2 separate regions of the Homo sapiens genome follow, and region 2 is linked to region 1. Evidence: fine-mapped expression QTL. A gene starts in region 1. The other region holds a variant in brackets. All regions are shown on one strand. Distances are between the middles of the regions.

The links. PIP is the estimated chance that this variant, and not a neighbour inherited with it, causes the effect.
Region 2: its variant is the best candidate, but not a certain one, in a credible set for the expression of VIPAS39 in whole blood (TOPMed, PIP 0.82).

The regions. Positions count from the first base shown.
Region 1 is chr14:77,455,976-77,458,889 of GRCh38, reverse strand. VIPAS39 (VPS33B interacting protein, apical-basolateral polarity regulator, spe-39 homolog) reads left to right here and starts at 1,289. Exons shown (of 20, transcript NM_001193315.2): 1 at 1,289-1,395. It overlaps AHSA1 (activator of HSP90 ATPase activity 1), which reads right to left and starts at 797. Exons shown (of 9, transcript NM_012111.3): 1 at 621-797. The coding sequence starts at 700. RefSeq lists enhancers at 541-720, 446-968, 891-1,350, 969-1,491.
Region 2 is chr14:77,380,623-77,383,536 of GRCh38, reverse strand. The region is part of intron 2 of SAMD15 (sterile alpha motif domain containing 15); the gene reads right to left. Among named protein-coding and RNA genes, the nearest start is that of SAMD15, 4.7 kb to the right of the region's middle. RefSeq lists a silencer at 2,862-2,914. The variant G/A (reference allele first, on the strand shown) is at 1,389.

The DNA of each region.
Region 1 (2,914 bases):
TTTGGGAAGATTTCATGAAGGAGGGCAGTTATTTTAAGAACGGTCAGGTTATAAAACCACGGCTGCTCGGCAACCTGGAGTTCCAACACACCCGACCTGATAGTTCCGGGTGAGAGGCCGCAGCTATCTGAGCTCTGAGCACCTGCACAACACGTTCTCAATCTCCCGCGGGACCGCTGCAGCGGTCCCCTATGAATGACTTTTAATTTTACCGCAGGCCGCAAAATAGGAATTACAGACCCCTGGCCTTAGGCCTTTCACAGCTATCTCCCAACACAATCAAAGGAGGTTCCAGTCTCAGTGACTCCTCTGGCCACGTGTAATAAGCACCTCCCTGCTCGGGCTGGATGCAGCAGCCAGGGCGTTATCTCCTAGTCTCTCTGACAACCCTCCTCTGGGGCGCAGCCCTCCACGTCCATCTCCCTCCCCTCAAACACTGAGAAGGTGACCGCGGAGTGGAGAGGCCTGGGGCTACGGACCCCTGCCACAGGAAGGACCCACCCCCATCTCCGGACAGGGCTACCTCAGCCCCAGCTCTGTCCGGGCCGAGGTTCTAGGAACCCTGAAACCCTGGCCCGGCCGCAGGTCTCCCAAGGCCGGCCTGCTTTTCTGGCCCTCACCAGTGCCAGTTGTTGACGTTGGTGGCGTCCGCCCGCTCCTCCACGATCCAGCGTGGGTCTCCCTCACCCCACTTGGCCATCGGCTCTCCTATCGCGGCGCCACCAGCTCCGGAGCAGCCGTAGCCACAGCCTCAGGACCGCTTAGTGCCAGCCGCCCGGCAGCGCCTGGAAACTACTAGAAGCGGCCGCAAGCACCTCCTGGCTTGCTTTTCCCTCCACCCCCTCCCCTCCTTAACTTCCGGCTCCTCCCCACTCCCACCGGTTACTTCCGTCCCAACTCGCCGCACCGTGGGTTCCGCCTGATTTAGAGATCCTTCAGACTCCATCGGGTTCTCCCCAAAAAGCGTCCCGAAACCCAACTGCTCATACAACCATTCCTCACCCATAGGAAAACAAAGAACACGTCTCATTGCTTCCCTGGACCCTAAATCGCCCTTGCTGAGCCTCATGGGAATTGTAGTCTTGCTACGTGACTCGCTGGATAACCGCGGAAGGTCTCGCGGAAAGGAGAGGAAATGACCTAGCACGGTGCTTGGGGTTTCTGGGGGCTGTAGTCAAGAAGCCTTGTGGTTCGTCGGGACAGCGCCTGACAGCAGAGGCAGAAGAAACTACGACTTCCAGCATGCCCTGCGGTCTCGTTATTCGTGTTTTCTCTCCGCCCTACGATTATTCCCTTCCGCCCCCTTCTCTAAGCTGCACAGCCTGAATAGAAGGGCTGGTCCAGCGGCGGCGGAGGCTGGCGCTGTCCTGAGAGGGAGGGCTCTGTGCGGAAGAGGTGAGGGTGTCCCAAGCCCCTTGGGTCGCGTATCTGGCTGGATCCAGCCTCTCCGCATCTTGATCTTTTCCCCTCTTCTAGGAGGCATCCCTACACCCTATGACTACAGGCCTGATTCTCTTCTTTCAGTCAGGGCGACCCTTGGGCGCTGGAGTACGCTTGGGACTGGGGCTGCGAGTGAGCACCAGCGATTGGTTCGGAAGCGGACATTTGGTTCAGAACGAGCATTTAACTCTGCCAGGGATCCGCTGGGCTCTGACGACTGCGGTAGATCCATGGCTTCCTGGACGTTCACCCGTAGAGTCATCCTAGCTTAACTCTTGTTCCCTGGTCTCAGTTCACAAGCCTCACCTGTATCTTCCTGGCTCGGAAGATAATTGAAACCAAGTCTGACTTCTCAGTAGGTGGTTTTTGGAGTTTTCTGAGGCAGGGAGCATGTTGTGGTTTTCTTGCTGATTCTTCTGTTTTCCTTTGTAAAGTTCCTGTTCTCCCCTGAGGTCTCTCACCCTGCCTTGTGGGCTGTCAGTAAACAAGAGACGATAAAGACAAACCTCTGAAGTATTTTAAATCATGTTGAAGCACCTGTCACTCTTAAGAGTGACAATCGTACCTGATTACTTTATAACTCTAGAGCCACTAGATCATTATCTATACTTGCCAAGTAAACCTAGCTTCTCATTTGGCGTTATAAATACAAATTGATGGCAGTTGTCTACTGCCATTGCATGGTTAAAAAGATTCCAGAAATCCTCTGGTAGATTATTGTGTTTGTTAGACACATTCTATGTCTATCTGTAGATAATTACTATAGTGAAGGAATGATCTCTAGTTTTCTGGAAAGTGAAAAATAGGTAGAAGGACCATGCAAGACACTAGAAATGGTCTAGGAGCCAGAAAGCCTGGATTGTAATTTGAAATAGGAGCATTTAACAAAGTGGCTTTGATACTGAACTCTTTTGTGCCTCACTTTCCCCATGAGTAACATGGAAATGGAATCTCCCAGGCCTACCTTACAAGATTGTTCTGAGGATCAAACGAATGACAGAGTGATTTATGAACTGACATGTGTGCCAGAGACATTTATATGTTCTATACACATCTTCAGCATTTGTGGCTACTCAGAATTTTTGTATTTTTTTTAATCTTTAGGATTGCTAAAAAATATTTTCTTTTTTAGCTTTTCCCAAGGTACCAGGATGATGTATTAATAATAAAAGTTACTATTGAGTGTTAATTTTGGGTCAGGCACTAAGCACTTTACATGTATTAACTGGTTTACTCCTCAGAACCATTTCTAAGGTAGGTCATCTGTTATGCCCATTTAACAGACGGGAAAACCAAGACAGAAAAATGTCAGTATGATATTCCATATTAAAAGGAAATAACATTTAGTATTTACTTTCTGCTAGACACTTTTATAGATGTTCCCTGCAACCCTGTGAGATAGGATATAATTTTCTCCAAGGCTTAGAAGTAAAGTCATTTATCCACTTTGCTCAGAATTAAGAGAAACCAGGAT
Region 2 (2,914 bases), 75 kb after region 1:
TCAAATTTCTTAGATAAAAGGACAGACCACTGGATTCGTCATTTACTCTTGAGGATTTCAGAAGATTTTTAAAACCTCTTGTGTCTCGCAAGATAAGAAAAACTATAATTAGAATTTTTATTACTGCATGTTGATATTGTACTTTTGGAATTAGAATACCAAGGGAGCTGAATGAATTGTCTGACTCTTAAAAATGCCTTCTCATGATAAAAAGCTGAAATTCTTGGTACTTAAATGTTCCAGGAATTTGACAGGTTACTATTTTGCTAATTCTGTTCCTTATTATTATTATTTTTTTAAGCGAAAGCAAGTTTATTAAGAAAGTCAAGGACTATGGCTGCTCCGTAGGCAGAGCAGCCTGTTCCTTATTTTTATCTAGAAAATTCATTATACCTTAAGTAGAAATTAGAGTTCATAAAAACAGCTGTATTATCTTTGAACATAAAAAGAACAAGATATTTATCTGGCAGTACTTGGTAGTTAAGTGAGGGCATGGTTGGAAATACAAGTATATAATAAATGATCCAGGCTGGGCATGGTTCATGCCTATAATCCCAGCACTTTGGGAGGCTGAGGCGGGTGGATCTGAGGTCAGGAGGTCGAGACCAGCATGGCCAACATGGTGAAACCCCGGCTCCACTAAAAATACAAAAATTAGCCAGACATGGTGGCACGTGCCTGTAATCCCAGCTACTTGGGAGGCTGAGGCAGGAGGATTATTTGAACCTGGGAGGCGGAGGTTGCCGTGAGCTGAAATCGAGCCACTGCACTCCAGCCTGGGTGACAGAGCAAGACTCTGTCTCAAAAAAATAAATAAAATAAATAAAGGATCATTTCCACATCATAATGTTTATAGTACATGGAAGTTTATGGTAACAAAAATGTTCACTTAGGCAATACAGTTAAATAGAACATGGATTGGGAAGTCACACAAGATGGACTTAAATCCTGGCTCTTAAACTTGTTATCTGAATATAAGTCGGGCGTGGTGGCTCATGCCTATAATCCCAGCACTTCTGGGAGGCCAAGGCCGGCAGATCACTTAAGGTCAGGAGTTTGAGACCAGCCTGGCCAATATCATGAAACCCTGTCTCTATTAAAAATACAAAAATTAGGCTAGGTGCGGTGGCTCACGCCTGTAGTCCCAGCATTTTGAGAGGCCGAGGCAGGCAGAGCACGAGGTCAAGAAATCAAGACCATCCTGGCTAACACGGTGAAACCCCATCTCTACTAAAAATACAAAAATTAGCTGGGCGTGGTGCCACGCGCCTGTAGTCCCAGCTACTCGGGAGGCTGAGGCAGGAAAATCGCTTGAACCCGGGAGGTGGAGGTTGCAATGAGCTGAGATCGCACCACTGCACTCCAGCCTGGGCAACGGAGTGAGACTC[G/A]GTCTCAAAAAAAAAAAACCCCAAAAAAACAACAAGAAGAAAAAATTAGCTGGGCATGGTTGCGCACACCTGTAGTCCCAGCTACTTGGGGGGCTGAGGCAGGAGAATCGCTTAAACCAGGAGATGGAGGTTGAAGTGAGCCAAGGTTACACCACTGCACTCCAGCCTGGGTGACAGAGCGAGACCCTGTCTCAAAAAAAACAAAAACAAAGACAAAAAACAGAAAAAACGTATTATCTGAATAGCTTGTTAAGTTGTTTCACCTTTCTGGGCCCCAGTTTTCTATAAAATGGGAATTAGTGAAATAATACATATAAGAGGCCCCAAACACAGTAAGCTCTCAGCAAAGCATAGCTATTAGCAGAATTTAAGAAAGTAAACGCTCAGTTAGGACTGTATGTTTAATAATTTAAAAAGTTTCGTTATATCTTCTTGCTAGTAAAAGGACTCAGGTATTAACAAGCATAGTTTTCTTATTTCTAAACCATATGACTTATGGAATTTTAGGGTTATAAGGCCTGTTGAAGAGTCATCTAGGGAAGAGATTCCAGGGCCTACCCAGCCCTAATGAATCAAAATCTCTGGAGGATGAAGCCTAGGAATGTATCTTTTTCAAAAAATCTCATTTGATTCTGAAGACGACCCAAGTTTGGAAACCACTGAGGTGGTACATTTCTGGGCATGGGTGTGCTGAGCAAAACCATGGTTATGCCAAGAACTGTCCATTCTTGGAGGGTTATTGGGGTGGGGTACTAAAGGAGAGGTTACACGTGAGATTGTTTGTGATGCTTTGTAAATTGCAAAGCACTACAAATGGAGGGTACTGTTATGCAAAGGAGAATAATCATGAACTGTTGGTGCTGGAGATTTTAGAAAATTGATGCTCAGAGTGGTTAATGTAGCTTGTTTCAAAGTTAGGCAGCAAAGCAGGCAAAATACATATGGTGTTATATAAGTGCCAAATGGGTGTCAGAGACACAAAATGTCATGAGAACTTGGGATGGGGGCTACTGTGGGCTGGGAATGTTACAAAAGACTTCTTGGGGAGATGCAAATGAGGAACTGGTCTTGAAGGATGATTAAGATTCATATTAGTAATACAGAGGATGGGGGAACTGAGCGAAGACATAGAGAGAAGAACGCACCAGGCAGGTTTGCGAAGGTGTTAGACCTGGTGGTAGGCTGGAGCACAAAATTCATGTGGAGGAGTGGTAGGGGAGAGAACTTGTGGAGGGCCCTAAATTCTAAACTAGGGAGTGGAGACTATCTTGGTAAGCAGAAGGGATCCAAAGAAGGTTTTTGAATAGTACATAAGTAGGTGGAAAGTGAGAGCATAAAAGCAGGGCCCTTGAATCCAAAGGGTCCATTGAGACAGGCTAAAAGCGGGAGGCCACTGTGGTGTTCTAGGCATGAGGCCATAAGGTCTGAAAAGTGGGAATGAAGAAAGCCAGACGGTGTAAGTGCCACAGGAGCAATGGACAGTTCTTGGAATATTTATGGGGATCAAAGGAGAAAGAGGAGGCAAC